Regions from separate parts of the Homo sapiens genome. Here regions 2, 3, 4, 5, 6 and 7 are each linked to region 1. Evidence: fine-mapped expression QTL. A gene starts in region 1. Each other region holds a variant in brackets. All regions are shown on one strand. Distances are from middle to middle.

The links. PIP is the estimated chance that this variant, and not a neighbour inherited with it, causes the effect.
Region 2: its variant is fine-mapped to the expression of PLCG2 in subcutaneous fat (GTEx, PIP above 0.99). The same link has a PIP of 0.9 or more in skeletal muscle.
Region 3: its variant is fine-mapped to the expression of PLCG2 in whole blood (INTERVAL, PIP above 0.99).
Region 4: its variant is fine-mapped to the expression of PLCG2 in whole blood (INTERVAL, PIP above 0.99).
Region 5: its variant is fine-mapped to the expression of PLCG2 in whole blood (TOPMed, PIP above 0.99). The same link has a PIP of 0.9 or more in pancreas.
Region 6: its variant is fine-mapped to the expression of PLCG2 in whole blood (TOPMed, PIP above 0.99).
Region 7: its variant is fine-mapped to the expression of PLCG2 in whole blood (INTERVAL, PIP above 0.99). The same link has a PIP of 0.9 or more in monocytes.

The regions. Positions count from the first base shown.
Region 1 is chr16:81,777,504-81,781,568 of GRCh38, reverse strand. PLCG2 (phospholipase C gamma 2) reads right to left here and starts at 2,278. Exons shown (of 33, transcript NM_002661.5): 1 at 2,145-2,278. RefSeq lists silencers at 1,973-2,052, 2,063-2,162, 2,193-2,462, 2,491-2,785.
Region 2 is chr16:81,874,012-81,878,076 of GRCh38, reverse strand. All of the region lies in intron 7 of PLCG2 (phospholipase C gamma 2), which reads right to left. Among named protein-coding and RNA genes, the nearest start is that of PLCG2, 97 kb to the right of the region's middle. The variant T/C (reference allele first, on the strand shown) is at 1,845.
Region 3 is chr16:81,956,608-81,960,672 of GRCh38, reverse strand. PLCG2 (phospholipase C gamma 2) reads right to left here. Exons shown (of 33, transcript NM_002661.5): 32 at 3,794-3,978; 33 at 1-2,717. The coding sequence ends at 2,675. Among named protein-coding and RNA genes, the nearest start is that of SDR42E1, 53 kb to the left of the region's middle. The variant G/C (reference allele first, on the strand shown) is at 2,414.
Region 4 is chr16:81,737,047-81,741,111 of GRCh38, reverse strand. LOC105369213 (a long non-coding RNA gene) reads right to left here and starts at 2,071. Exons shown (of 4, transcript NR_189584.1): 1 at 1,676-2,071; 2 at 733-852. It also overlaps a transcript of PLCG2 not described here. RefSeq lists enhancers at 2,176-2,225, 1,787-2,569, 2,796-2,855, 3,760-4,065. The variant C/T (reference allele first, on the strand shown) is at 2,181.
Region 5 is chr16:81,927,843-81,931,907 of GRCh38, reverse strand. It overlaps PLCG2 (phospholipase C gamma 2), which reads right to left. Exons shown (of 33, transcript NM_002661.5): 24 at 3,284-3,350; 25 at 254-411. Among named protein-coding and RNA genes, the nearest start is that of SDR42E1, 82 kb to the left of the region's middle. The variant A/G (reference allele first, on the strand shown) is at 1,509.
Region 6 is chr16:81,909,556-81,913,620 of GRCh38, reverse strand. PLCG2 (phospholipase C gamma 2) reads right to left here. Exons shown (of 33, transcript NM_002661.5): 18 at 2,901-3,101; 19 at 905-1,024. Among named protein-coding and RNA genes, the nearest start is that of SDR42E1, 100 kb to the left of the region's middle. RefSeq lists an enhancer at 310-809. The variant C/G (reference allele first, on the strand shown) is at 2,048.
Region 7 is chr16:81,935,969-81,940,033 of GRCh38, reverse strand. It overlaps PLCG2 (phospholipase C gamma 2), which reads right to left. Exons shown (of 33, transcript NM_002661.5): 27 at 3,656-3,865; 28 at 2,131-2,276; 29 at 1,119-1,233; 30 at 1-142. Among named protein-coding and RNA genes, the nearest start is that of SDR42E1, 73 kb to the left of the region's middle. The variant A/G (reference allele first, on the strand shown) is at 2,236.

The DNA of each region.
Region 1 (4,065 bases):
GGCAACCTGTGAGCAGCTACTAAAAAGCAAAACACGCATATGCTTCGATCCTGCAATTGTACATGTAAAGAAAGACATGCACAAAGATGCAATATGTACGACAGAAAATCACGGAAGCAATAGTTGCAATAGAAATACAAAAAAAGAAAAAAAAACAGAAAACAACTGCTCATCAATGTGGGGGGCCTCCTGGATAAATAATGGTGCACATGCACTGAAGAACGCTCAGTAGCCATCAGAAAGAATGAGGATGATAGATAAGCAATTTGATCTGGAAAGATTTGTGAGGTCAATAAAAAAATAGCTTCAGACAATAGTTGCAACTGTATGAGTATAATACAATTCCCTTTTTATAAAGGTGATCTTCTGGTAAATCCAGGAGAGTGGTTACTATTTATCGGAGGCTGGGAGAGGGTAGAGGATACAACTTGACTTTATTTATATTAACTGATGATGTAACGGGCAAATTTTTCTCTTTGTGTTCTTGCTGTTTTCTAAATTAAGAAGTGTTTGTGTGTGTTTGTTTGTTTGTTTGTTTGTCTTGAGATGGAGTCTCTCTTGTCACCCAGGCTGGAGTGCAGTGGCATGATCTGGGTTCACTGCAACCTCCACCTCCTGGGTTCAAGTGATTCTCCTGCCTCAGCCTCCTGGGTAGCTGGGATTACAGGCGGCCACCACCACGCCCAGGTAATTTTTGTAGTTTTAGTAGAGATGGGGTTTCACCATGTTGGTGAGGCTGGTCTGGAACGCTTGACCTCAAGTGATCAGCCCAGCTCGGCCTCCCAAAGTGCTGGGATTACAGGTGTGAGCCACCGTGCCTGACCAAGAAATGTTTTCAAAAGTTTTCTCACCAGCAGCTTTTCATTGACTCTACCCAATGAGTGCAAAAGGGCTATTCATGGGGTCTGTGCTTTTCCACTTCCAGAGGAACTGCCCATACTCCAGTCGCTGGTGGGGGAAGGCAGCTGCATCATTAGGTGACTTAAACATCAGTGAGGCTCACAATGACGATTGTCCCTGAGCTGGTATACACGTGACTGCACACACACCTTTGCAAGAGAAACTGCTTGAGGCTGGCATAGACTTCAAAATTCTGTAAAACTTCCCCGCAGAACTGTAGTCAAGGACGAGGGCCCATGCCCCAGAGAATGCCCTTGAACCAGAGAGTCAGGAACTGCCCAAGGACTCTCCATGGATGCGCCCCGATTCTCAGCGAACCTCGTGGAACAGCAATAAGCCCCAATTCTCGACACAGCCCTGGAAAATTGGGTGGCTCCAGTATCCAGAGGGGGAAACAGACTCAAAAAGGTTCTTCAACTTGCCCAGGGTCCCACTGATGGAACTGAAATTCAAATTAAGTTCCGACGGGCAAGGCCACCTGTTTCCCTCGCGCCATGTCACCCCTTTACCACCCCGCCCCCCATAGTTTCTCACCCTAGTTCAAGATTAGGGTACCAAGAGAGCCCCGCCCCACCGTCCTGCTGGAATCCAGGAGCTCCCCGTCCAAACGGGGCACGTCTTTAACCTGAACTCTTGCGCTGTGCGGGTAATGCCCTCTTTGGGATTCCAAAACACAACAAAACACAACACGCACAGACACACGCATAATTACGCAGACAGCTGCGGAGCGGGCATCGCGAGTGTCCTGCAAGCTCTCCAAAAGTCTCCGGGAAGGACTGCGCCTCCCGCGGTATCGCTCCCACCCGCCACCCGCAACCACCGAAGTGAGACAGGGAAGTGTGGCTCCGAGCGTCCGCGAGCTCTGGGCACAAGGGCCGTCAAGAGAGACGGCGCCACCCCACGCAGAGCCGCTCGAAAAGAGGAGTTTTGAACGCCAGCCCCCACACGACCCCTGACCTTCCTCCCGGTCCCCATTCAAAGCTGGGGCCGCCCCACCGCACGGACCGGAGAGGTGGCGCCGGCCCGGGGTGAGGAAGTGGCCAGCGGCTGGGCCAGGATCCCTGCCGTCACCAAACGGACCCCGGGCACGGCGGGCCGGGGTCCCCGAGGGTGCGCCCCGTCCCTGCCCGCTCCGGCTGAGCCAGGACGCAGACCCCCTCGGACGCAGCGCCCTGGGAGCCGGTCCCCGCGGGGCGCAGGTCCCTGGGCGCCCTGCCTGCCTCGCTCCCGGCCGGGCAGCTCACCTGGCCGTGCCGCCCGGGCACAGCTGCCCGCCTGCCCCGGGTTTGGGCTCCGGGGTCCCGCGCGCGCAGCCCGCGTCCCGACTCGGGTCACTCAGCGCCGCTCACGCCCTCCGCCGCCGGCGCTCGCTACTTCTGCTTCGGCCGCGGCGCCGCGCCACGTGATCCTCGGGGGCCGCCCCCCGCACCGCCCAGCCTCGCCCCGCCTCGCCCCGCCCCAGGCGCGCCCAGCCGGGTCCGCCTCTCGGAGCGCACCCCGAGTGCAGCGTCCCCGCGCCCTCCCCGCCATGGAGCGGCCCAGGCCTGGAGCCCCGCCTCTGCGTGCCAAAGAAGAAACTGAGGCAACCCGAGGGGAGGCTACCTGCCCGAGGCCACTTGGCCAGGTGCAAAGGGAATTCCCCAATATCATGGCATTCCTGGAGAGCCGGCCGCAGTCCAGGTGTTTGCCGTATACTTAACACACTCCCGGCCGGGCGCCCGGGCTCACGCCTGTCATCCCAGCTCTTTGGGAAGCCTAGACGGGAGGATCGTCTGAGCTCGAGAGTTCGAGACAGCAATGAGCTAGGATGGGTGTGGCCGAGAGACACTCCGTCTCAAAAATAAATAAATAAAAATTAAAAATAAATATACTCTTCACAATTACCCGCCAGGAATTGCCAATTCATGGCCCTAATTTGAAGCCCTCGTTGAGGCTGCGCTGGAGTCAGACCAACCCTTACTGCTACCTTAGGCAGACCACTTAAAAACCGACAGCCTCAGTTTCCCCATCTGTAAAACGTGATCAACATAGTGCCAGCCCCAAAGGGAGTCAGGAGCAAAGAACCCCAGACAATTGATGTCCCGTTTTCCTGATCTCATGGGAAGAAGCTAATATGTTCTTTAAGAAATTTATTTTTCCGTTCGTGTGTTGCATGAAGCTATCTGATTCAAACCCTTCCTATGCTCTTTGATGGAGGTATCTTTGTTGTGACTAGAGGCAGTTTCAGGGGCACCTAGACAGCTGTCAGGCACTTGAATTTCACTTCCAAGTTGCTTGAGTTATAGCTTCTGTTTTCTAAGAGGCAGGGTCTCACTCTGTCACCCAGGCTGGAGTGCAGTGGTGCCATCATAGCTCACCACATCCTCGAACTCCGGGACTCAAGCGATCCTCCTGCTTCTGCCTCCTGAAGAGCTGGGACTATAGAGGCACACCACACTTGGCTAATTTTCTCTTTTTTCGACATGAGGTCTCACTATGTGTCCCAGGCTGTTCTTGAACTCCTGACCTCAAGCAATCCTCCTGCCTCTACCTCCCAAAGCACTGGGATCACAGGCATGTGCCACTGGTCTGTTATAGCGTTTTTTTTGTGTGTGTGTGTTTTTGGTTTTTTTTGTTTTTTTTTTTGTTTTTTTTTTGTTTTTTTTTTTTTTTGAGACAAAGTCTTGCTCTCTTGCCCAGGCTGGAGTGCAGTGGCACGATCTCGGCTCACTGCAACCTCCACCTCCCAGGTTTAAGCGATTCTCCTGCCTCAGCCTCCTGAGTAGCTGGGATTATAGGTGTATGCCATCATGCTTGGCTAATTTTTTGTATTTTTACTAGAGACGCGGTTTCACTATGTTGGCCAGATTGGTCTCAAACTCCTGACCTCAAGTGATCCACCCACCTTGGCCTCCCAAAGTGCTGGGATTACAGGCATGAGCCACTGCACCCGGCCTGTTATAGCGTTTTTTAATTGAGGAATATCACTCTCACTGTCAATGTTGTATCCCAAGCCATAGGACTCGTTTGTGACTTCACAAGATCTGTGGATTCATTTCTTTCAGCACTCCCAACTGGCGTGTATAGCTGTGCTCATCACCACAGATCACTTAACACATCAATTTTTTAAAGAGATCTTGGAAGGACTCATTATGACATCAACCACTTGAAGTCATTGGGCCAATT
Region 2 (4,065 bases), 97 kb before region 1:
CCGGGAGGCAGAGCTTGCAGTGAGCCGAGATGGCGCCACTACACTCCAGCCTGGGTGACAGAGCGAGACTCCCTCTCAAAAAAAAAAAAAAAAAAAAAAAAAATTAAAAAAAAAAGAGGGAGATTTGGAGACAGAGAAGCACACAGAGAAAAGGGGTCCATGTGATGATGGAGGCAGAGACTGGCACAATGACATCTACAAGCCAAGGAGCGATGCAATGACATCTACAAGCCAAGGAGCGATGCAATGACATCTACAAGCCAAGGAGCGATGCAATGACATCTACAAGCCAAGGAGCGATGCAATGACATCTACACGCCAAGAAGCGATGACGCCTACATGCCGAGGAGTGATGGTGTCTGCACACCAAAGAGCAATGCCATCTACACACCGAGGAACACTTGTAGGACTGCTGGCAGCCACCAGCAGCCAGGCGGTGTCCACACTCCGAGGAATGCTTGAAGCATTGCTGGCAGCCACTAGAAGCCATGAAAGATGTCTGGAACACATCCTTCCCTGGAGCCTTCCGAGGGGTGTGGCCCTGCCAACACCTGGATTTTGGACTTTTAACCTCCAGTACAGTGAGGGAATAAACTTCTGTGTTTTGTTGTTTTGTTTGTTTGAGACGGAGTCTCGCTGTGTCGCCCAGGCTGGAGTGCAGTGGCGCAATCTCGGCTCACTGTAAGTTCCGCCTCCAGGTTCACGCCATTCTCCTGCCTCAGCCTCCCAAGTAGCTGGGACTACAGGCACCCGCCACTATGCCCAGCTAATTTTTTTTGTATTTTTAGTAGAGACAGGGTTTCACCGTGTCAGCCAGGATGGTCTCGATCTCCTGACCTCGCGATCCGCCCGCCTTGGCCTCCCAAAGTGCTGGGATTACAGGCGTGAGCCACCGTGCCCGACACTTCTGTTATTTTTAAGCCACGAGTTGCAGTACTTGCCACAGCGGCCCCAGGAAATGAACATGGGCTCCATGAGCTGGGGCAAGACGGTGACAGTCTCAGTCACTCCTCCTGCTGATCCCATCAGGTAGTAAAATAAGCCCCATTTCAGAAACAAGAAACAGGCCCAGGGAGGCAAGGACTTTTCTCCTAACAAGTCCAAGGGCCAGAATTTCAACCCAGGCCCACCTTGGTAAATCTCTAGCATCCCACACTACACGTACATATGTACACACAATAAATGAGATTCCAGCAATCACAGAATATTCTAGATGCTACGGGTGCACCGTGGAGGCAGCAGTTAATTTATGTTCGGCATTACCATGGAGGGTTATGTGGTCAGATTCTACCTAACCAAGGGACAGGGGTGGCACTGGGCCTTATGTCACTCTGGGCAACATCCCAGGACCTTCCCACCCCAGCAAAGGGCCAGTGAGGTCAGGAGAAACAGCTGTATTGTTAACCACTGTGCCTCTTGGGTCACGCACACATTTACTGGATGAGTGACTAAAATAATAGATAAACTAATTTCTTCTGGTAGCTAAAAGGCTACAGGGAAATGTCATCTCTGAGTCGGGCCCCAGGAGAAGTTACCAGCTGGACAAGAGAAGGGGCCATGCCAGAGGCGGGGGTCACAGAAGCAGGGGCCAGGGCACTAAGAAAGGGAGGGAAAGGAATGGAGTTTTCCCACGTGGCTGAAGGCACACGCCCTTTCACAACCGAAGCTGGTCTTACGCACTCAGTGGTACTTAGGCTGTAGAAACCATTTGGTTCTGGAAGGCCAAGGGTAAAATCTCATCAATAGAAAAGCTAGGCCAGGCACAGTGGCTCATGTCTATAATCCCAGCACTATGGGAGGCCAAGGCGGGTGGATCACTTGAGCCCAGGAGTTCAAGCCTAGCC[T/C]GGGTAACATGGTGAAACTGTCTCTACAAAAAATACAAAAATTAGCCTGCATGGTGGCACACGCCTGTGGTCCCAGGTACTCCGGAGGCTGAGGTGGGAGAATCATCTGAGCCAGGGAGTTCGAGGCTGCAGTGAGCCATGATTGTACCACTGCACCCCAGCCTCGGTGACAAAGTGAGACCCTGTCTCAAAAACAAAAAAAAAAAAAAAAAAAAAGAAAGAAAAAGAAAAGCTAACCAGAGATTCTATCTAACTTCTCCACTGTGGACTCTCCTCTTGCCAGCCACTGACAATAAGAATAAACTGCAAGATCTCTGAGCTCCTCCACAAACATCGTCACAGAACGCTCATCACTCACTTCCCCCATGCTCACACCCATGTAAAATCCGGCAGAATAATCCTTCAATGCCTTACTGGATCATAGGAACAACCAGAGATACGTTAGCAGCCTTCTCAATTTTCTTTTTGATTTTTTGCAAGTGCTTTCTATTTTTATGTAAGAATGCTGTAACCACAGGGGACTTCACAGGTTTGATCAGGAGGTAGCAGGGTAGCAGTCACGTAGCCAGGTATTAAATTACAGTATTGGCAGATGACCTGATACGCTGCTTGATGTCTGCTGCAAAGTGTGAGAAAAGGGACTTGGGTGAGGGCAGTGACAAGGTGATAATGGCTGAAGTCAGCTGATGATACATGGGGGTCTGTTACGCTATTCTCTCTACTTCTATATGCTTTACATTTTCTTTAATACAAAGGATTCAAAAATTAAGAAGTATTCCATGGCTATGCGTCAAAGTTGGGCAGAAAATCAAATCCTAGCTCTGCAGCTTACTACCCTGCAGTAAACAGGCCTTCAGCAAAGTAACCTCTCTGGACCTCAGTTTCTTAATCCCTAAAATGGCAATAACAACAGTAGCTCTTGCACAGGCCTCTAGGGGGGAATTAAATGTATACAAAACACATAGAGCAGGTTGGGCATGATGGCTCACACCTGTAATCCCAGCACCTTGGGAGGCCAAGGCGGGAGGATCACCTGAGGTCAGGAGTTCGAGACTAGCCTGGCCAACACGGTGAAACCCCGTTTCAATTAAAAATACAAAAATTAGCCAGGCGTGATGGTGCATGCCTGTAATCCCAGCTACTCAGAAGGCTGAGGCAGGAGAATCGCTTGAACCCGGAAGGAAGAGGTTGCAGTGAATCAAGATCGTGCCATTGCACTCCAGCCTGGGCAACAGAGAAAGACTCTGTCTCAAATAAAAAAAAAAAAAAAAAAAAAAAAAAAAACACATAGGATAGTGCCTAGCAAATAGTCCACCTGAGAAAATGTTGGCTATCATCTTTGTTAATGATACTGTTATTACAGCCTAGTTAGAGGTATATCCCCTCACCAGGGAGACACAAACGTGAGATTACATTTCTTATCCTCCTGCTGCTGCCAAACTTTTGGAAACTCTGAAGCTCGAGAGGTGGAACGTAGGCAGGTGGTTAGACACAAAGAGGAACTAGCAAGCTCACGATGGAAACCATTTGGCTGCTGATAAGCATGAACCCACTCCCTGGATTTAGTTCTGGGGATTATAAGTCACCATAAATAGCTCTGTCTCCTGCAGGAGCCTGAGAAATCCAGCTAGGCCCTCATTCCCCCCAAATCACAAAACAGGTACTTTTCTCTGCCCTGTGCTTCCAGCCAGGAACAGGAAGTAAACAATTTGCTAACAGGTTAGGGGATGGGCATTTACCTACACAACAGCAGTGAGGTTCTTAGAGCTGGCCAGAAGCCATCTACATAGCTTGGGACTTTGTTATTCAAATCTGTCACTAAATTAAATTTTTAAAATGCAGTGACCAAACTGGAGAGTTATACCCTCAAACAGTGGAGATGAGGGTTGCCAAAGCAAAACTTCTTTGGGGTCAGGTAAGCAACATAAATGAGCAGACAGAGCTGTATGGGGCTGGGTCAATACAGAGAAAGTGGACCGTTCCATGGCGAGATGTGACCCTATTTATAGCCAGATCTCGATTTTTTTCCTAAGGGAAGCCAAATATCTAGATTTTAATATATAATATAATCTCTCAAGTTTTAAATGTAGGCAATTAATTTTTAACATATTTAAACCATTAGATCAAGTACAACCAGGGGCAGGCTCAATGTGGCATTCTGGCCACCAGGGGTCAACCTTTGGTATCGGCAGAATCTTTGCCATACAAAGTTCCACACGGG
Region 3 (4,065 bases), 180 kb before region 1:
TGTTCCACTATAGATAAGTCCCATGAGACACTTCTGGCAAAAAGATTCTGAGATCGAATTTGGAAAACAAGACCCTCTACACCTTTCACTCCTGCACATCTAGTCTCACAGTAGAAAAACTTTATTTAGTTTTTATAACCTAAGTTTCCCAAACTCACAAGGCCTAACCAGCCTCCCCACTTTATTTTTCCTTGTAATAACCAATATTCTAAATAACACACTTAGGAAAATGGTGAACAAAAACAGTGTAATACATATGCAGTGGTGGTTTTGATCTATCAGTGCTGCTTCCATCTTTCAGAATGTGCCTGTTACTAGTCTTCTTGGCCTGGATTGGCTGTGCTTTAACAGTCATGTAGGAAGCATGTCTCAGCTAGATACTGAAGTTATGTAGCATCACATAGACTCTGGGAAGAGCCATCATACCATGTGTGCCTTTCCTGAGAGAATCAGTCCCTAACACCACCAAGAACCAGATTAACGTGTTACTCTGTCAAGGACAGGAGGAAAGAACCGAAGAAAGTACTCTCTCATGGTGGATTCCGGTTGTAGCACCAGGAGAAGGAGACAGTTTTAGGCAGAGGGTTCTTCCCAGCACCATTTATGTCATAATCCCCTGACTTCTCTTTGGCCACGCATGGATTTTACACAGCAGCAGCTGGAGAGAGGCTTAGCTTCTGCTTCCTATGCCGCCATATGTCAGGTTCTTTGATATGGTAGCAAAAAACCCATTTGGGCAGAAAGGGGATGCAGGCCTTAGCACTGTGGCTTTAAAGTAGAATGAAGTGAGGAGCTGAAAGGAGGTAATGACAGCAACACCTGAGCTCTGCTGTGTGGAAGTCCTAACAGAGCTGAGAGGGGTTGGGGGAGATGCCAGGTGCAATAAATAGGTTCTGGTGGCTACCTGGCCAAAGGCTAATGGGGCCCTGGCTACAGAGTGCCTGCAGCACTCATCCCAGTGCCTTTCTCACCTAGCCTTTCTTGAAAGTTGCTTTGAACATCTGCCACTAAGAGGAATGTTCTTTCTTCAGTTGCTGACTGCCAAATAAAATAGCAGCTCCCAGTTGGAGGAGTAACTGGAGTGATAGCACCAGATAACAGCCCTTCCTTGGCCAGACTGCTGTTCCCTGTGTTCCTGGCTTCAAGCGAGGTAAATGGCTTTCTTTTAGGAGCTTGTGGATGGAGATGATTGATGAGACCCACAGCTTTTTGTTTAAACATCCACACCCCCAAATCTTGGCACTGTATTTGGCATGTGGAGGTGATCAGTAAGTTTTTGTAGAGTGAAGGGACCAGAAGGATCTTCTGGTCAGAGCCTGATTTGTTCTGCCCTGCTTTTCAGCAGTACATGCATACTAAGCCCAGCATTTCGGGTAACAAGAGGAGGGTCAGATGGGTTTCTAGGGGCCAGTTCCATCCACATCAAACATCAGGCTTACTGCTGGTTTGTTCTTCCCCACCACAGCCATCGTTTTTCACAGTTACACTCCTTTTCCCATCAGCTGTAAATTCACTCATTGAGAAGTTGTGACTCTACCAACCACCTCCCTTCCCAACCCAGCACTCTCCTCTCCTTTAAAAAGCCATATTACATTATTGGTATGTATTAACAACTTAAGATGCAGAGGTGTAAAGCCCTGGCCAGCCGCACATACTGTCATGAACTAGGTAGATCTGCCCCAAGGGAGATGGCTGCATTTGAAATTTTCTGTAACACCCTAATGCTTAGCCCATTAAAGCTCAGCTTGCTGCTCCAGAAGACTGGGTAACCCAGAGACATTTCGCCATCAACCTAACTTTTGTCTACCTCTTTCAAGCAGCAGTTGACCTCTTGCCTGTGGAGAGCTGTGGACCAAGGGCCATTCCAGCAGCCTCCCAGCCAGTTCAGTAGGGCCATGAGGGACTAGTGGGGCCAGAGCCTCCCAGCAGCTGGCAGAGCCAGGGGCAAGTGAGAACCTGCCCCTGCAGCACGGCTCTGGTCTCTCTGATGGGCTTTTTAAAACAAAGAGGCCCCAAGATTCCTACCCTCCATCCCAGTAACTCTAGTCACAAAACAAGCTGTCACCATTAATTAGAAATTGTCTTAATGAACAGATCCCATCACTCAGCCATTTTCTTGTGGACTGCAGCAGGCAGCCGGTGGTAGTTAAAGTACATTGAACTGAGCAGGCTGCCTGTGGGTAGGGCTTCTCTTTGGGCCCTTATGGAATCATTTGCCTTTGAGTTAAAATCCTTTTCAGAATCTCATGAATAGTTTCTTACATTTCCAGCTCATCCTCCATGGACATCAGTTACCTGGATCATTAGAGGTAGAATCTTCTTGGCCAGAAAAGAAATCCTGTTCACTGCACAGGTCGTGCAACAGAAGGCTTAATTGATCAAGGTTTTCATTGCTTTTATTCAATGAGGTTTG[G/C]AACATGAGAGGCCAAAAATGAGGAGCACATTTTGGGGAATCCTCTATAAAGAATATAAGTTAAGAAAGTTGTCCAAGATGAAAATAATAGGAAATTACCCCAACTCATGCCAGTTGGGTCTTAAGAAATGTCCTTGATGGCAGGCTTGAAGAAAAGATGTCACAGATTAGCGTCTTCCCAGAGTGTGAATAGGGCACGTTCTCCTACATGCAAACACACATGCGCACACACACAATACCCTTACACACATACCCCAGCTTCTATGAGTAAAACTTGCTGTTGCTGACTCTCTTCTCTCTTAACCTGAAATAAAACAGATTTCACCATCAGCAGTGGGCCATGAGAAATGGGCTGCGTGCTGAACTCTGTAACATTTCTCTTTCTGTACATTTGCCAGTCATTCATAGCTGGATGGTATAGGGCTGAGTGTCAGAGAGGCAGACTCCAAGTTCCTGGTAAGACGTTGAGACTCAGAGAGGTTAAATCTCCTCAATGGTAAAACAGAGTAAGAGCTACTCTGCAGGCTGACATGAAGATTCAATGAGAATAATGTGAGTAAGGGAGGCAGCACAGTTTCTCGTTGGTGGCTACTATTAGGATTTTTGTCTGGATGATTCTTTCTTAGAAGATTTAGACATATTATGAAACACTTGGCAACCCCGGCCGCCCCGCACCCCATTACATGCCTGTAGCACAACCACAAGCATCCCTGTTGGGGGATCTTGACCCAGTCTAGAGCCGCTGGACTAGCCCATTCTTGGAAACACAATAAGTACTCCTTAAAAGTCAGTGGTCATCATTTATTTTCGCTATTAAATTGAAGTGTCCTTCTAGAGGAAACAGTTCTACTTAGGGGAAGTGGCAAGCGCCTAAGGTATTACTGTAGGTTAATTTCTAGAACAAAGAGAACTAGAGTCAAGGGTGCCAAAGGATTTTTTGTTTGTTTGTTTGTTTGTTTGTTTGACAGAGTCTCCCTCTGGTGCCCAGGCTGGAGTGCAATGGTGTGATCTCGGCTCACTGCAACCTCTGCCTCCCAGGTTGAAATGATTCTCCTGCCTCAGCCTCCCAAGTAGCTGGGATTACAGGCGCCCACGACCATGCCCAGCTAATTTTTGTATTTTTAGTAGAGACAGGGTTTCTCCATGTTGGGCACGCTGGTCTTGAACTCCTGACCTCAGGTGATCCAACCTCCTCAGCCTCCCAAAGTGCTGGGATTACAGGCATGAGCCACCATGCCTGGCCTGTGAGCCACCATGCCCGGCCAAGGATTTCTGAAGAAAGCAACTCAGAGGGCTTTCCAGAAGCCTGGCCCGTGGTGCCCATCATCACCGTGCCTAGAGACCCCCCAAAAGTTTTTGCAGGTGGAGGGGCTGACCTACCTCTTGTTGCATTTCTCCTGGTACAGCTGGAGCTGGTTCTCATTAACACTGAACTCTTTAACCAGGGCATCCCGGTTGGCATTGCGCAAGTTCTGGTGTGTGTCATACAGAAAGAGCTGGTTGTTCAGTTCTTCTTGCCGCCTCCTCAGCTGGCGACAGGAGGAGTAAAGTTCCTCTTCGCTCTCCTGGAGGATGCAGGGGAGAGAACAACCATGTGGTGACTACACCTTCCAAACCAAAATGTGAACCTGGCATCTCACAAGCATGCCCAA
Region 4 (4,065 bases), 40 kb after region 1:
GATGTCGGGGCAGCAGGTGGATCAAAACAAAGGCCAAGAGCGCTGGTCTATGGAGGAAGGGGACTGCCTTGGGGGAACCCCTCTTGCTCTATGGGGCACAGAGGGTGCATGGATTAGAACTCTATTCAAACTTGCTTAAGCAAACTGGGAGATTCACTGTCTCACATCTGTGGGAATTCCAGGGAGGATTCTGCCTGGCAGGCAAGGTGAATCCAGGGACTCAAGAGAACCCTCAATGGGTTGGTTTCATTCTTTTTAAGCCCCATGTGCTAGGGATGCTGACCACAGCCCCAGGCCTCTGCACCCACAGTGGGAAGAGGAAGCTTTGGTTGTGTTTTGGTTTGGTTTCGGTTTTTTTTTTTTTTTTTTTTTTTTTTTTTTTTTTTTGAGATGGAGTCTGGCTCTGTTGCCTAAGCTGGAGTGCACTGGCACTATCTCAACTCAGTGCAACCTATGCCTCCCAAGTTCTCCTGCCTCAGCCTCCTGGGTAGCTGGGATTGCAGGCACATACCACCACACCCGGCTAATTTTTTGTACTTTTATTAGAGATGGGGTTTCACCCAGGCTGGTCTCAAACTCCCGACTTCAGGCGATCTGCCTGCTTGGGACTCCAAAGTGCTGGGATTACAGGTGTGAGCCACTGCACCTGGCCAGGGAAAAGGAAGCTTTACTCCCAGAGCCTCTGCACGCCAGCCCCAGGGATGTGCTCATTTGCTGGGGTCACGTGCTCACCCTTGACCCTGTGACTGGTCGAAGCACTGGGATGCAGTCATTGGCTGTGCCTACGTCACATACTCTGTAGGGGAGGGCAGGGTTGGTACCTGTGGTCGACAGCCCCACTGAACCAGCTTCCTAAGGAAGACAGTAAATGTCACTAGAAGAAAAGTAAACCTTACTACCTGCGTACCTGCCACACACTGGTTTTCTTCTTTTCTTTTTGTTTCTTTTCTTTCTTTTTTTTTTTTTTTTTTTTGGAGACAGAGTCTTGCTTTGTTACCCAGGCTGGTATGCACTGGCGCTGTCTCAGCTCACTGCAACCCCCACCTCCCAGGCTCAAGTGATTCTCCTGCCTCAGCCTCCCGAGTAACTGTGATTGCAGGCATGGGCCACCACACACAGCTAATTTTTGTACTTTTAGTAGAGACAGGGTTTCACTATCTTGGCCAGGCTGGTTTCAAATTCCTGACCTCAAGTGATCCACCTGCCTTGGCCTCCCAAAGCGCTGGGATTACAGGCATGTGCCACTGTGCCCGGCCCCACACACTGTTCTGAGCACTTACTAATTCATTTCATTCTTCTAACAACCCTACGGAGTAGGTGTCATTTCATCATGCCCATTTCATGGATTAAGAATGGAGGCACAGGGTGTTTAAGTACCTTGCCCAAGGTCACAGTTGGTGAGAGGCGGAGCCAGGATTCAGCCCCAGGCCGTCTGGCTCCAAGTCCACGTGCTTAACCACCATGCCACATTGTCTCTCCTCATCCCACAAAAGCAACAATCTGTCCTTTTAGGGGCAGCCGCAGGAGAAGGGGTCCCAGCCCTTCCCTGGAGGAGTACGGGGGAGCAGCTGGACCTCAGGTGACCCATCCTCAGCACAAAGCCTGTCTTCAGTGCCCTCTGTCTGGAAAATACTGGGGGCTCCCAGAGAATGTACCAGAAATAGAGGCCACTTACCAGGCTCCACTCGAGCGGAAAATGCCGTGGCCTGAAGACTCAGATACTCACCAACCTTGCCACTGCCACAAGCGCAAGTTGGCTGTGTGACTGCAGACCCGCCACTGTTGCTCTCTGGGCCTATTTCTTCCGCTTGCACGTAAGCAGATAGAGGCTTAATCCCCTGTGCCCAAGGGCCCTGGGGTCTCGCTGGGGAGAAGCTAGGGGTGAACTAATACCCCAGGCTGTGGTCGACCACCAGCTTCTCTGGTCTCAACAGCCGCAGGTGCTGGGAGAACAAAAATCCCCCCTGCCCCCACCCAGACACTGAGTACCAGTGGCTCTTGGGCCCCTGGAGGGAGAAGGCCCGACGGCGGCCCCAGCTTCCTCCTGCACAGCACTCTCTAGTTCACGCTTATCACTCCTGGGCCTGCCTGTCCCACTCCCGCAAGACGGCACCCCTCCCCCTGCCAGGCTGGGGCAAGTTCCGCCCCTGCCACAACTTCCCCATCTGCCGCCTTAGCCC[C/T]CAGCCTGGTGTGAGTTCTTGAAACAGGTGTCAAAAACTCACAAGGGCACTGGCTAGTGCCAGCTGGAGTGATTTTGTCCCTCAGGAAGGGTTTCCAGATTTAGGAAATAAAAATGCAGTCTTTGGACATAATTATACAAAAACATTATGTGCTTATCTGAAATTCAAATTTTCAAAGTTAAATTCAAATTTAACTATTTTATTTGGCAATCCTGCACTCAGGGGACATTGCCCCTATCTGGAGACAGTTTTTGATTATCCCAGCTCAGGGATGCTACTGGCATCTAGGAGGTCAAGGCCAGGGAAGCTGTTCAGCACCCTACAGTGCACGGACGGTCCCCACCAAGTGATCTGGCCCCTAATGGCAATTATGCTGAGGGTACGAAACCTCCCCGCGGTGGCCTCCCCAGCCCTAACACGCATGCTTGCCTGCCATCTCAGGAACTTGACAGAGGAAACCGTGGTGATCCTTGCGTGAAAGTCAGGGAAACTGAGGCACGGGCGAACTGTCTTATTCAAGGTCACACAGTGCAGTCTTTCCTTCTCTAATAAACTCGTCGGTTCTTCTAAACACAGAGGCACGCAAGGCCAGCCAGGAAATACAGGTGGGGAGAGGGGTCAGACAAGAGCCTTCAGGGTCCCCAGACCCCCGGGAGTGGGGTCCTTTGGGGCTGGGTAAGCCAGCCCTGGAGAGGAAGAGGAACCATGCTGACAGGCGTCACTACCCGACTGTTGTCAATTGTGCCACCAGGAGGCAGCAGAGACTGGGAAATAATTCTGCACACCTTGCCCTCCCCCGCGCTGCAAGGAACTCAATTCCTGGCTAGCCCCACCTCTCCCCCAGCCCAGAATCTGATGCAGCTGCTCTAGGACAGGCGCCAGCCATCCGCATTGTTTAAAACAGCTCTCAGGTGATTCTATTGTGCAGAGAGGATTTGCGAAATGCTGGACTTATGCCTTGGTTTTTTCTTTCTTTTCTTTTTTATGTAACAGAGTCTCACTCTGTCGCCCAGACTGGAGTGCAGTGACGCGATCTCGGCTCACCGCAACCTCTGCCTCCTGGGTTCAAGCAATTCTTGTGCCTCAGCCTCCTGAGTAGCTGGGATTACAGGTGCCCACCACTACACCTGGCTAATTTTTTGTATTTTTAGTAGAGACGGGGTTTCGCCATGTTGGCCAAGCTGGTCTCCAACTCCTGACCTCAAAGTGATCCACCCGCTTTGGCCTCCCAAAGTGCTGGGATTACAGGCATGAGCCACCGTGCCATCCAGGCTTTGGTTTTCATCACTGATTGCACAGCAGCACCACCAGGACACTTTAAAAACCCACCGCTGTGGATTTTTAAAGTCTATCCACAGGTGCATGGATAAAGAAATGTGGTCTAGACAGACAACAGAATATTAGTCAACTGTAAAAGAAATAAAACTCTGACACATGGCCAGGCGCGGTGGCTCATGCCTGTAATCCCAGCACTTTGGGAGGCCAACGCAGGCGGATCACCTGAAGTCAGGAGTTGGAGACCAACCTGGCCAACATGGTGAAACCCCGTCTCTAGTAAAAATACAAAAATTAGCTGGGCGTCGTGGTGCACACCTGTAATTCCAGCTACTCAGGAGGCTGAGGCAGGAGAATCACTTGAACCTGGGAGGCGGAGGTTGTAGTGAGCCGAGATTGCGCCACTGCACTCCCGTGGGCAACAGAGCAAGACTCCATCTCAAAGAAACAAACAAACAAAAAACAAAACAAAAAAAATTGACACACGGTACAATATGGATAAACCTCAGAGATATTGTGCTAAGTGAAGTAAACCAGACACAGAAGGACAAATACTGTAGTTTCTGCAAACAGGAGACTCCTAGAGTAGTCGGATTCATAGAGGCAGAAA
Region 5 (4,065 bases), 150 kb before region 1:
TTGCTGCAGGCACTCAGCCTTCTGAAGGTTCGAACCAGACAACCAGACCCACCTTCCCAGGGCACCTCCACTATCCCTGCCTCTCTCTAACAAGAGGTGCTCCAATTGTCTGAATCCACCTGGTCTCCTTCCTGAATTCTGAGTAGGACCTGGGCCTGCTCATCCTGCTGCCTGGACCCACCCACAGTCCCAACTGAGCACCAAAGCCCTCAGAATGCCAGGCCCACCTGCACCCGGGTGAGCAGGTGCCTACCTTGGTGTCAATCTTCCAGGTGATCTCTCGGATGCTCTGAAACCACTCAAAGAGCTCCTCCACCCTGTCTGTGGCAAACTCCACCGGAGGATCGCCCTGCTGCTTGGGCTCCAGGATGAAGACAAAGGACTTCTGGTTTTTTCCCTGAGGGGCTTTCACTTGGGGTAAGAGAATAAGAAATGTCCCAATCAGCCTATTAGAGGGCCACAAAGACCAGACTGCACCCTGCCTGAGCTGTTTCTCTCATGGACCAACCACCACTGCTATGACCACGGTTAGCACTGATGGGGACGTCTACTTTCCATCGGGGTAAGTACACATCACAGATGACTACTCAAGGGATGCAGTAGATTCAGTAGGGTCCTCCGAAAAGATGTGTCAGGTCACCAGTACCTGTGAATGGGACCTTATAGGGTCGTTGCAGATGTACTTAGGTTAAGGATCTCAATATGAGATTATCCTGGATTTAGGGCAATTCCAACATCCAACAAGTATGAGTATCCTTATAAGAGAAAGGAGAGGGACACTTAAGATGCAGGAAAAAAAAACAAACATTAAAATGCATGAGAGAACCTGAAAAAAATACCCTCTTGTCCACTTTAGTTATAGACATGTGTTCGTCTTGATCAAAAGAAACACTGAATATCTTTTTGGTTGACCAATTAGAAAATGCTTTTTACACTCATCATAAATATTTTTTACAAATTACTAAAACAATACATGTTCATTTTAAAAATATTTAAAATATAGCTAAGCAACTTGGCATTTTTACAAAATGTTTACATACAATACATAAAATTTTGTGAACTGTTTCACTTAGCATATTGTGCATAATTTTCTATGTTGTTACATATAATCTTTTACATATAAAGAATAAATAATTTAAATGGCTTTTTTTTTTTTTTTTGAGACAGGGTGGCACTCTGTCACCCAGGCTGAAGTGCAGTGGTGCGATCTTGGCTCCCTGCAGCCTCCACCTTCCAAGTTCATGCGATCCTCCCACCTCAGCCTCCCTAGTAGCTGAGACCACAGGTGCACACCACAAAGCCTGGCTAATTTTTGTATTTTTTGTAGAGAGGGGTTTCGCCATGTTGCCCAGGGCTGGTCTCGAACTCCTGAGCTCAAGCGATCCACTCACCTTGGCCTCCCAAAGTGCTGGGATTACAGGAATGAGCCACCACACCCAGCTAAATGGCTTTAAAAACAGATGCAGACACAAGGGAGAAAGCCATGTGCAGGCAAATGTGGAGACTGA[A/G]GAATGCAGCCATGAGCCAAAAACACCAAAGAGTCACCAGAAACTAGGAGAGAAATGTGGCGTGGGTTCTCCAGACACAGAGAAAGGATCTTACAGAGAAGAAAAGATTATGACAGGGAAACTTATCTGCCAAATAATATTAGTAGCTAAGATTTCTGAGCTCTTATATACCAGGCAATATTCTAAGCAGATTACATGTATTGCATCTTTATTTTATTTTATTTTTTTAATTTTGAGCTCTTGCTACATTATCCAGGCTGGTCTCAAACTCTTGGGGCTCAAGGGATCCACCCACCTCAGCCTCCTGAGTAGCTGAGACTAAAGGCACCCTGCTTTTGCTAGGCCCATTTTGCAGGAGGCAAAACTGAGGCTCATTAAGAGAAAGTCACATGTGGAAAGTCATACAGCTAGTAGTAGTAAAACTGAGGCTCAGTTCAAACCTGACTCCAAGATTTCTACTCAGAACCAATGAGCCATGTGCCTCTGCTCTGCAGATACAGGGATGGGGGAAGATGATACAAAGAGCACCAGAAGTGGATGCAGGGATCCTGCACCCCCCTGCCCAAAGGACCTCAGCACATGTGGTGGTCGGTCACTTAGGACCTTGATTTTCCCATCTGGTAATCGGAGCAAAGAATCCCTCTCCTACCTATCCTGCTGGATCATTGTAAAGGTAAAGAAGCAGGTTATAAATGTGGAAAGCAGGCTGGGCATGGTGGCACATGCCTGTAATCCCAGCACTTTGGGAGGCTAAGGCAGGCAGATCACTTGAGGTCAGCAGTTTGAGACCAGCCTGGCCCACATGGCGAAACCCTAGCTCTACTAAAAATACAAAAATTAGCCAGGCACGGTGGCCCATGCCTGTAGTCCCGGCTACTCAGGAGGCTGAGGCAGGAGAATCACTTGAATCCAGGAGGCAGAGGTTGCAGTGAGCCAAGATCACGCCACTGCACTCCAGCCTGGGTGACACAGCGAGACTCTATCGCGAAAAGAAATAATAATAAATGAATGAATGTGTAAAGCAGAGCATTGGCAATAGAAGCAGGAAGTTCCTGGGGCTGCTGTCACCTGAGTCCTAGGGGAGCATGCCCGTGCCTGCCCAGGGAGGGTCATGGGCTGCCCAGAACAAGGAGGCCCGCTACAGAGTCCCTTCACATGGGAGCTGCACCACACCCACTTCAAAGCAGGCAGGCTCAAGACCCAGGAAACCCAGCACACATCAGACCCTGGCCACCACTGGACAAGCCTAGCCTTGGGGCCACGCCTTCACATCCCGTTGCAGCATGGTCAACGTGGGCGGGCTGGGTTTCCTGGGCCCCAGCCGAGCAACCAGGAAGCAGAGGTTCAAAGAGGAGAAGTGACAGGCCTGTAGTCTCACAGCGACAGAGAGGCAGAGCTGGGTTTAGAACCCAAGACTCCCAACTCCACGCTGCATTTCAGCCAGGCTGACAGCTCAGCTTTCCTTCGCAACGCATGGGAAACACAGATGGATCCTGAAATAATAAGAGTGACGCTGGTAATAATATCCGCTAACCACCATCTAGCACTTATGTACGAGACCTTGTTTTAGCACTTACAGTTTTAGTAGAGATTAATAGCAGACATAGCATCATACTCACTGACCAGCCTGACCTAAATACTCAGCTTCAGCCAGGGAAGGAGCTGGCATTCAAGACAGGACCCTGTGTCAGCCACCTCCCTGTGTAGGGCGGGGCTGAGGTCAGCCCATGGGGGATAGGGGTGGAAATCCAGGCTAAGATGATGTGTGCACGTACCGACGTTATAGGTATTGAGGTCCAATATTCCTCTGCAAAGAGACCCTAAGGGATTGTCTTCAATAATCTGTGAAGAAACAAGACATAACTCACGTTAGTTGTAACGGGAATAATAAAAAGAAAACCCGTTTCCAAAGCACACCGTTTAGCAGAGATACTGCCTGTGGAACTGTTTAAAATGCATTTTCATTACCAGATACGTCCATGGGGAGAGAGCTAAATAATGAAGCATGGAGCTGATAGGGACCTGGCGGGGAGAGGGTGCCAGGAGGTTCGGAGTTTCATTTTCCAATCCGTAAAAACGTGCCTTGTGAATTCTAGAACAGGTTTCATAATGCTTCCTCAGATCTGGTTTCCAAACACATCCTAGACTATTTATCTGACCTTATTAGAAAATGAGACTATTTTGCCTACTAAAGCCCGGCTCAAGAACCTTCTGTGGCTCCCCATGTCCTGTGGAAGCAACACCCATGCTCTATGACCTGGCTTTTAAGACTTTCAGAGCCCCCATCACCCTTTCCAGCTCTGCCTCCCATTGCACCCTTGAACCATCCCAGGGTCTGGCTGAGATGAAGAATATCCTGGGCTTAGGAGAGGTGGCAGAACCAGGCATCCACTCCTTGCCTGCACCACCCCAAACCCCACCCCCTGCACCAGGTAAATGCTGATGTACAGGTAAGGGCAACTCAGTACAGAGGAAGCAAGGGCTTCCAGTCTCTGCCTCAGCCCAAGCACACGGAACACAACCACATTCCCACTGCCACACCTTTGCTTAGACTGTA
Region 6 (4,065 bases), 130 kb before region 1:
AGTTTTTCACATCAGTGTACAAAAGACGCCCACAGGCCTCTGGCTGGAGATTTGGCCCCCAGGCCTCTGGCTAGAGACTCTGGAGTGAAGAGCTTAGGCTTTGGAGACGGACAGGCCTGCATCTGAACCTCAAACTCAGTTGACTATGAGGCTGTGTGACTCCAGGCAGGTCACTTAACCTCTCTGGTCCTGTTTCCTCCCTTGCAATAACTAGACCTACCTCTCACAGGCTGTAGCAAAGGATTCAATCAGATGAGGCCTTGAAGGCAGTCCAGTGTCTAGAACACGGTTAGGAACTCAACATATAGCAGACTGTTACCACCGTAAGAACATGCAGGGAAACCCTGGGGCTGGGGAGATGGAGGGACAGTAGGCTACACGGAGTCTGAGTCACTCCTCGGCTCCTTGTCATTAGTGGAAGTGGGAGAATCTGGCGTTTTGGGGTAACATTAGAGAACCACAGGCCTAGAGGTGGTTGGGCAGCAGCTGCAGTTGGGAGGAAACCAGATCTATATCATCACAGGCCTGGGCTGCCTGGGCTGTCTGGGCTCGAATCCCAGCCCCACCACTTAGTGGCTGCATGCTTCAGCAAGTTACTTAATCTTGCTGTGCCTCAGTTTCCTCCTCTGAGAAACACGGATCATGGTCATGTCAACCCCACAGAGTTACTGGAAGCCAAAGTGAGTTACTACAGAACATCCTGCCCTGGAGAACGCAGACTGTGCCTGGCACGCAGGAGCGCACATTCTCGCAGCGGCTTTTGCTGTGGTGGTTGTTGTTGTCGCTGATGCTGGGGGGGCAGGGCACTGCAGGTGAGCCTCCACCTGAAGTTCCCCCTTGTCTCTCCGCATCTGTCCTTGCCAAGCCCCTCTGTAGAGCATGTGCCTCCCACCCTCGCACCCACCTGAAGGTGATGGCATAGGAGTCGCTCCCCTCTCGCTTCCGGATCAGGAAGGCCCCGTCCCGGGGAATCCTCATCAGCATGTCCTCTGCCTCTCCGCGGCTCAGGCTGTCATAGTACCACCTGCGGCACAGGGCCAGGGAAAACGACCAGGTGAGCGGTCTCCAGGCTGTCAGTGGGCCACCCGCAGAGGACAAGATAATGGCACCAGTGACACCTGGAACCTGGCCCTGGAAACGACCATGGAAATCACACAGTGGGCTTCCCCAGACAAAGGCACCTCAGCAAAGAGAATTTGTGAAAAGAATAGTGGAAGACCCCAGGGGTCTGTTTCAAGCCCAAAATAATACATTGGGCCGAGCACAGTGGTTCACACCTGAAATCCCAGCACTTTGGGAGGCTGAGGCAGGAGGATCACTTGGGGTCAGGAGTTTGAGACCAGCCTGGCCAACACAATGAGACCCCCATCTCTATAAAAAATAAAATAGCCTGGGCACAGTGGCTCACGCCTGTAATCCCAGCACTTTGGGAGGCCAAGGCAGGTGGATCGCGAGAAGCCAGGAGTTCAAGACCAGCCTGACCAACATGGCGAAACTCTGTCTCTACTAAAAATACAAAAATTGGGCCAGGCGTGGTGGCTCACGCCTGTAATCCCAGCACTTTGGGAGGTTGAGGCGGGTGGATCATGAGGTCAGGAGATCGAGATCATCCTGGCTAACACGGTGAAACCCTGTCTCTACTAAAAATACAAAAAATTAGCCAGGCATGGTGGCAGGCGCCTGTAGTCCCAGCTACTCAGGAGGCTGAGGCAGGAGAATCACTTGAACCCAGGAGGCAAAGGTTGCAGTGAGCCGAGATCATGCCACTGCACTCTAGCCTAGGCAACAGAATGTGACTCTGTCCCAAAAAAAAAAAAAAAAAAAAAAAAAGGAAATACAAAAATTAGCCAGGCCCAGTGGCGTGCGCCTATAATACCAGCTACTCAGGAGGCTGAGGCACAAGAATCTCTTGAACCTGGGAGGCAGAGGTTGCAGTGAGCTGAGATCGTGCCATTGCACTCCAGCCTGGGAGACAGAGCGAGACCCGGTCTCAAAATTAATTAATTAATTAATTAATTAATTAGCTGGGCACAGTGGCACACACCTG[C/G]AGTCCCAGATAGGAGGCTGAGGTGGGAGGATCACTTGAGCCCAGGAGCTCGAGGCTGCTGCGAGACGTGATTGTTCCACTGCACTCCAGCCTGGGCAACAGAGCAACACCTTGTCTCAAAAAATTGATTCATCTTCATCCACCCAAGCAGCCCAAACCTGAAAAGCCAGGCTCCCAGGGAGGCACAGTTATTGCCACGTGTCTCAGAAAATCGAAGACGGAGATCACAGCAGGAGTTTCACAAGGTTTTGGGTTGTTTTCGGGTTATTTCTTAAGATAAGAAATAGCAAGTTTTAAGAGGCAATCCATAGGAAAATGTGACAGAAAAAGTGAAAAAAAAAGTTGCTATAAGTAATACGGCCTCCTCGGAAATGGACATTTTTGCAGCTTTCTGCCTAAAAATTGTTTTTTCTTTATTCCCAGAATTTGTTGACCCTTCGCAAGACCTACCTTGATACTCATTTCACTAGATAAAAAAAATCAGCGGGAGACTCTTATAATCATTGTTTCCTTGTTCATTTTCAGAACAAACAGGAAGGAGCTCTGAAAGGTAAGAGAATATCCCCAGGCCAAAATGACCCTCTGAAAATCAAAGCCCAAAGTCTCGGGGCTATGAAGACAAAGTAGAAGAAAGGGAAAAGAGAAAAGGGGAGGAAAGAAAGAAAAGAGAAAAGGACACAGGTCATGGTGCCAGGAATTTGGAAACTGGCCACCTCGGCAATTTTGAGATGCCGGTGGGCTGGGGAGAGGGTGTCCTGGGGGACTGGCCCGGCTGAACCACCAGGCCAGCTTCTCTGCCTGGTGGAGCTAACCCGACCACCGCCTGCCTCCTGCTCCACCCTCAGACACGTACGGCTTGGACTCGTGGGGGTTGGGGTTGGGCACAGGGTCCGTGAGCCGCAGCTCGAACTCGGCGCAGCGCAGGTGCGTCTCGCGGTAGTGCTGGATGAGGGCATAGATGCTGCTGAAGGTGAGGTTGTCAGTCAAGTAGTATTTCAGGGTCCCGCCCTCCATGGTGGAGCGGATCCGGCAGTGCTGGACCCGGCCTGACCGCCTGCGGGGAGAGGACGCCATCAGTGCTGGGAGAACGCAGGCCAGGCCATTGCGGCAGCCAGGGCCTCAGAGGCGGGGACATTACATGTGGCCACACAACCTTCCCTCTGCTCCTAGAACAGACACAGGAGGCTGGGCGCAGTGGCTCATGCCTGTAATCCCAGCACTTTGGGAGGCCGAGACGGGTGGATCACCTGAGATTAGGAGTTCCAGACCAGCCTGGCCAATACAGTGAAATCTCGTCTCTACTAAAAATACAAAAATTAGCTGGGCATGGTGGTGCATGCCTGTAATCCCAGCTACTTGGGAGGCTGAGGCAAGAGAATCACTTGTACCTGGGAGACGAAGGTTGCAGTGAGCCGAGATCACGCCACTGCACTCCAGCCTGGGCGACAGAGCGAGACTCCATCTCAACAACAACAACAACAAAACCAGATGCAGGGCCTTAGTATAGGCTAGACCCTCAGCCTGGATTCCAGAACATTCTACCTACTTCCCCCACCCCACCCCACCCCATCCCCCTTTTATATATATAACTGCTTCTCTAGAGCCAGGATGCCTGGATTCAAATCCCAGCTCTGCCACATATGAACCAAGTGTCCTGGAGCAGGTCACCCGTGCTGTCTGAGCCACACTGTATTACTACCCCAGCGGTCTGACAGGAATGATAACAGTATCCACCTCAAAGAGGCATCCTGAAGAGTAAACGAGACCACACACACAAGGTGTCTCGAATACTGCCCAGCACATGGTAAGCATCATTTAGGTGTCCAGGATTATTTGCGTGTTATTAGTATTCTAATTTTCAGCCAGGTGCAATGGCTTACAGCTGTAATCCTAGCACTTCAGGAGGCCGAAGCCAGAGGATTGCTTGAGCTGAGTTCAAAACCAGCCTGGGCAACGTAGTGAGACTCCAGCTCTACAAAAAATTTAAAAGTTATTCAGGTGTCGTGGCATGTGCCTGT
Region 7 (4,065 bases), 160 kb before region 1:
GTGGCATGAGCAAGAAAGTTGGGATCGCTGAACATATCTTCTTCATAAACCACAAAGCGCAGAAATGCCAGGTTTGGGTCATAAATTTCAAATGTCACCTTCTCCTGTGTTGGAGCCCAGATAGGGCTGAGGCCATTATCATCTGGAAGGAGATCAAAGCTCATGAGAGGCCACATTGGAGCTGCCCCCTTCTGGTAAGACAATCTCCGCATCCTTCAGCTGTGAATCCCCTTAGCAACCATGTAAATAAATATGCATCTATGCCAAGATCTAAGAAAATCTGAATAATTATCTTCACTCCCCCACCCCACCTTGAGCAATCCTGGAAGCTGCTGTTGCAGGCTGGTCCCTTGGTGAGCAGAGGAAGGAGACCACCTCCCATCTCCCCGCCCCAGGATCAGGGACAAGGGAACGGGGGAGGTGTTTGTTTGCAGAGCAGGAAGGTGGATTTTGGAAAAGACAAAAGGGGAGGAGAGCCTGGGAGCCACATCCACCAGCAGGGGGTTCTACAGCTGGCAGGGGAGAGCCCAGCCTCACAGAGCAGGCAAGCAGCAATCCTGCCACTCTCCATAAATGCCAGTTTATTTGGTCAGCATCTGAGTTGTTCATTGGGCTACTTTTTACCAGGGGCAAGGATCCTGTGCTTTAGAAGGCCCACCAATCACGGTTCCCTCCTGGCTTTTCCTGGAAGAGCAAGCATTCCTCTTGTCCCTCCTGCCCTCTAGGGGCTAAGATCTCCCAGGTTAGGCTGATCCTCTGGGTCAGGTCAGCCACGTAGGTTCACCCCCTCTCTCTGTGTCTCTGCCTCTTGGCCTTTGACTCAGGAGATTAATCAGATTGGGCTGTTGCACAGAGAGGACCAACCTAGTGTCAGGGCCTCACCTACGATTCCGGACTTGAGTTACAGGCAGGCAAACAGCACTGGGGAAAGTCTAAGGATTTCAGAAAGTGGCCCTTTGTATGTATCCCCTCCTCAAGCTGAACCATGTGGGCAAGAGGGAGGAAAGAAAACCCTGGGACAACTAAAGAGCATTGCAAAATCCCCCACGAAGAGCACTCCCACAAAGGATTCACTGGCCGGACGTTTAAAAGCAGAGGGGCCAAGGTGACTGACTTACTCACAACCGTCGTCTTGAACTTGTTGTTGTCATACTCGGCTCCACAGATCTCCACTTCTACAAAGGGACAGGCAATACTTCGTCCAAGTTTGGGGAGATGGCGAGCACCGAGAACCTGGGACACCAAAGGGAAGCATTGGAACCCCCCTGGGGTCCTGAACAGGCAGCCTAGCGTGGATTGCAGCTGGGTTCTAGAGTGACACTGGATGAGTTCAATGCCAGCCCTAATTTTCCTAGATTCACTGGAAAAGCCGGAGCAACCTTCTGCAGTGGATGAAGGTGGACTGTGGTAGATCCCACAGTTCCTCAGCATCAGCCTGGGTCTCGGCCCCATATGCCACCTGACTCAACAGGTAAAACTCACCTGAGCTCATGAATGCACACATCCATGCCCAAGCAGGTGCCTCTGATCAAGGCAGAGCTTAATCACTGGATTTCCACACCCCTAGGAAAGGCTGAGGAACAGTGTGGCATTCTTTTTATAACTGCTGTTTATTTAAAGGCCTGTGTTTACGTATGCTTCTTCCCCCTACCACCCGCCCGCCCTTAACCTTAGGAGAAATGCAATTCATTTCTCTACTTTTCAAAAATTCTTACAAAGCAACAACACTTTCTCTGAAAGTCAGATGAATTTTAAAAAGCCCTGGAATTGGACAAAGTAAGGGAAAAAACTTCTCCATTAAGACCAAATGGCTGTTTCCCATGTTTTCTTTCTCTTTCCGGCCAGAGGCTGACCTCACCAGGACCCCAGAAAGATAGGGTCATACCTCACCCCCACAGAGGACAAGGGGAAGTGGGTTTGAGGAGGTTTCCCCTCTCTTCCCTCTTCTCCCAGAACGACCCCGGAGTGTACTGTAAGAAAGAAAGATCCTCAAACACTGCCTGAATGGGGATCGTTTAAACAAGACAACCAGCCTCCCTAGACATGGGTTCCCTGCTCTCAAGACAGCATCGGCCCAGCCCCCAGGGAGGGCGGCTGGCTCCCCTGGCAGGAAGGGAGGGCTGGCTTTACCTTGACTGTCAGCGTCATCAGGATCTTCCTCTGGGACTCGGGTGGCATCGGGTCATATTTCTCTGTCCTCATGCTCTCAGGCTGCAGAACGTAGCCCGTGCGCCC[A/G]TTGAGAGAAAACAATGCGTGATTCATCTGCATGTACTTATCTGGGAAGGAAAGTGAACGCCTGCTGTAAGTCAGGCATGAGCACGCTGGCCCCCTAGGCCAGGAGTTTCTAGGTGGGGAATGAATTTCACCTTTTCCCCAAATTAATGTGAGGCAGCTGTTCAAATAGGTATCTCACTCAAAGAAAATATAGGGTTTCTAGACAGCAAACTCCCAGACTGGGGAACACCTTTCCAAGTATGTCACCAAATCCCGAATCATAAAAGAAAAGATTCAAACTTGCTAAAAGTGTCTATGTAGCAATAAATTGCATAGGCAATTTTAATTCAAATGACAAATATGTGAATATAAATTTTTAACCTCTTAGTTCTGATACATCTATGCTATAAATACCTACTGCAGTAGATACATCAGGTAAGAAGCACAAATAGTTCCCAGAAAAGAAAATGCCACTGCTCCCTAAATGAGGGAAAAACTGGTTAATGTCCCTTACAAGAAGAAGCTCTAATGGACGACGATGTATCAGTTTTCACCTCTCAGTTGTGCAAACGGCAAAAAGTTCAACAAAACTCAGCGAAGTCATACCAAAAGAGCGTACTCCAACCTCCACCTATTTGCATCCCCGCCCACGATCTCTATGGAGGGCAGTTTGGCAGTGTGGCTTAGCTCAGGCACGTCTTCAGTGGTTTTCCTCAGGGCAAAGTTGATCAAAATGCAAGCGCTGTTTGACCCACCCTGCCTTTCTGAGAATTCTGTCCCATAGACATATTCCTACATCTGTGGAATGGCGCTCACGTCAGGGTACAGAAGGCAGTGCTGTCTATGACAGCAAATAATGGGGAATACCTACATGTGCCTCCACGGGGACTTATTAAATAAATGATTGTTCCATTCTGTGGAATCCGATGTGGCTATAAAAAGAATGTAAAGGAGGCTACTGATGAATAGATCCCTCGAAAGAGGTCTTAAATAACAACAACAAAAGCACAAAGCCCCGTGATTTATGCGATCACTTTGTGTCCAGAAGTTTGTGTATGTTAGTTATGCCAGCATGTAAATGTCTCTGGAAGAAAGTCTGAGCAGAAAGCCCTCACACAGCAACAGGCCTGGAGAAGAGAACTCCAAAGATGCTTTAATTACATGAACTAATGCATTTTCTTTTTCTAAGCCAGACTAACTCAGCCTCTGTCACTTACTTACAATCACGAAGCCTGCGTAAGCCAAGCAGCCTTCGGTCCTCTCATCCCTCCATTCAGCTGCTGGACCTCATACTAACCATTACTCTGCTGAACCGTGCAGTCCCTCGGACAAATCACTCATTCTTGGACACCACATGGTATCGCTGACCCAAGGTGACTCGGCCTGGAGTGACTGCAACCGCCACCTTGCAGGGACGGGACTACCTTCAGTCGGCCTTTACCTGCCGTCTGGAAATTGAGTGCCACCATCTGAGAACCGCACAGCCAGAGGCGGAAGGGGTCGTAGTTTGAAGAGTCAACTCTTTGTCCCTTTGGGTAGACGCGGGTCAGGCCCTTTTGATTGTACTTCAGGAGGTCGACGGGCTTCTGTCTGATGATGCTGTCAGCCTTCGTCTCCACAAAGGAGCGGATTTCTCGGAAGTCAGGATTTTCTGCACACAGAGAAAAAGGTCATCAGTACTTCTGTGTCTCATCTGTGCATTTTCTTAATGTTTGCTGCAATGGCTGGATGCTCAGATTATAAAAGGAAACCAGGAATCTCCCTCTTTGACATTCAAGGGGTTCTGATGATATTGTCCCAATTGGTATCACTGTGGACTCTTGCCCTCTGGGGGTTCCAAGTATTAAAAAG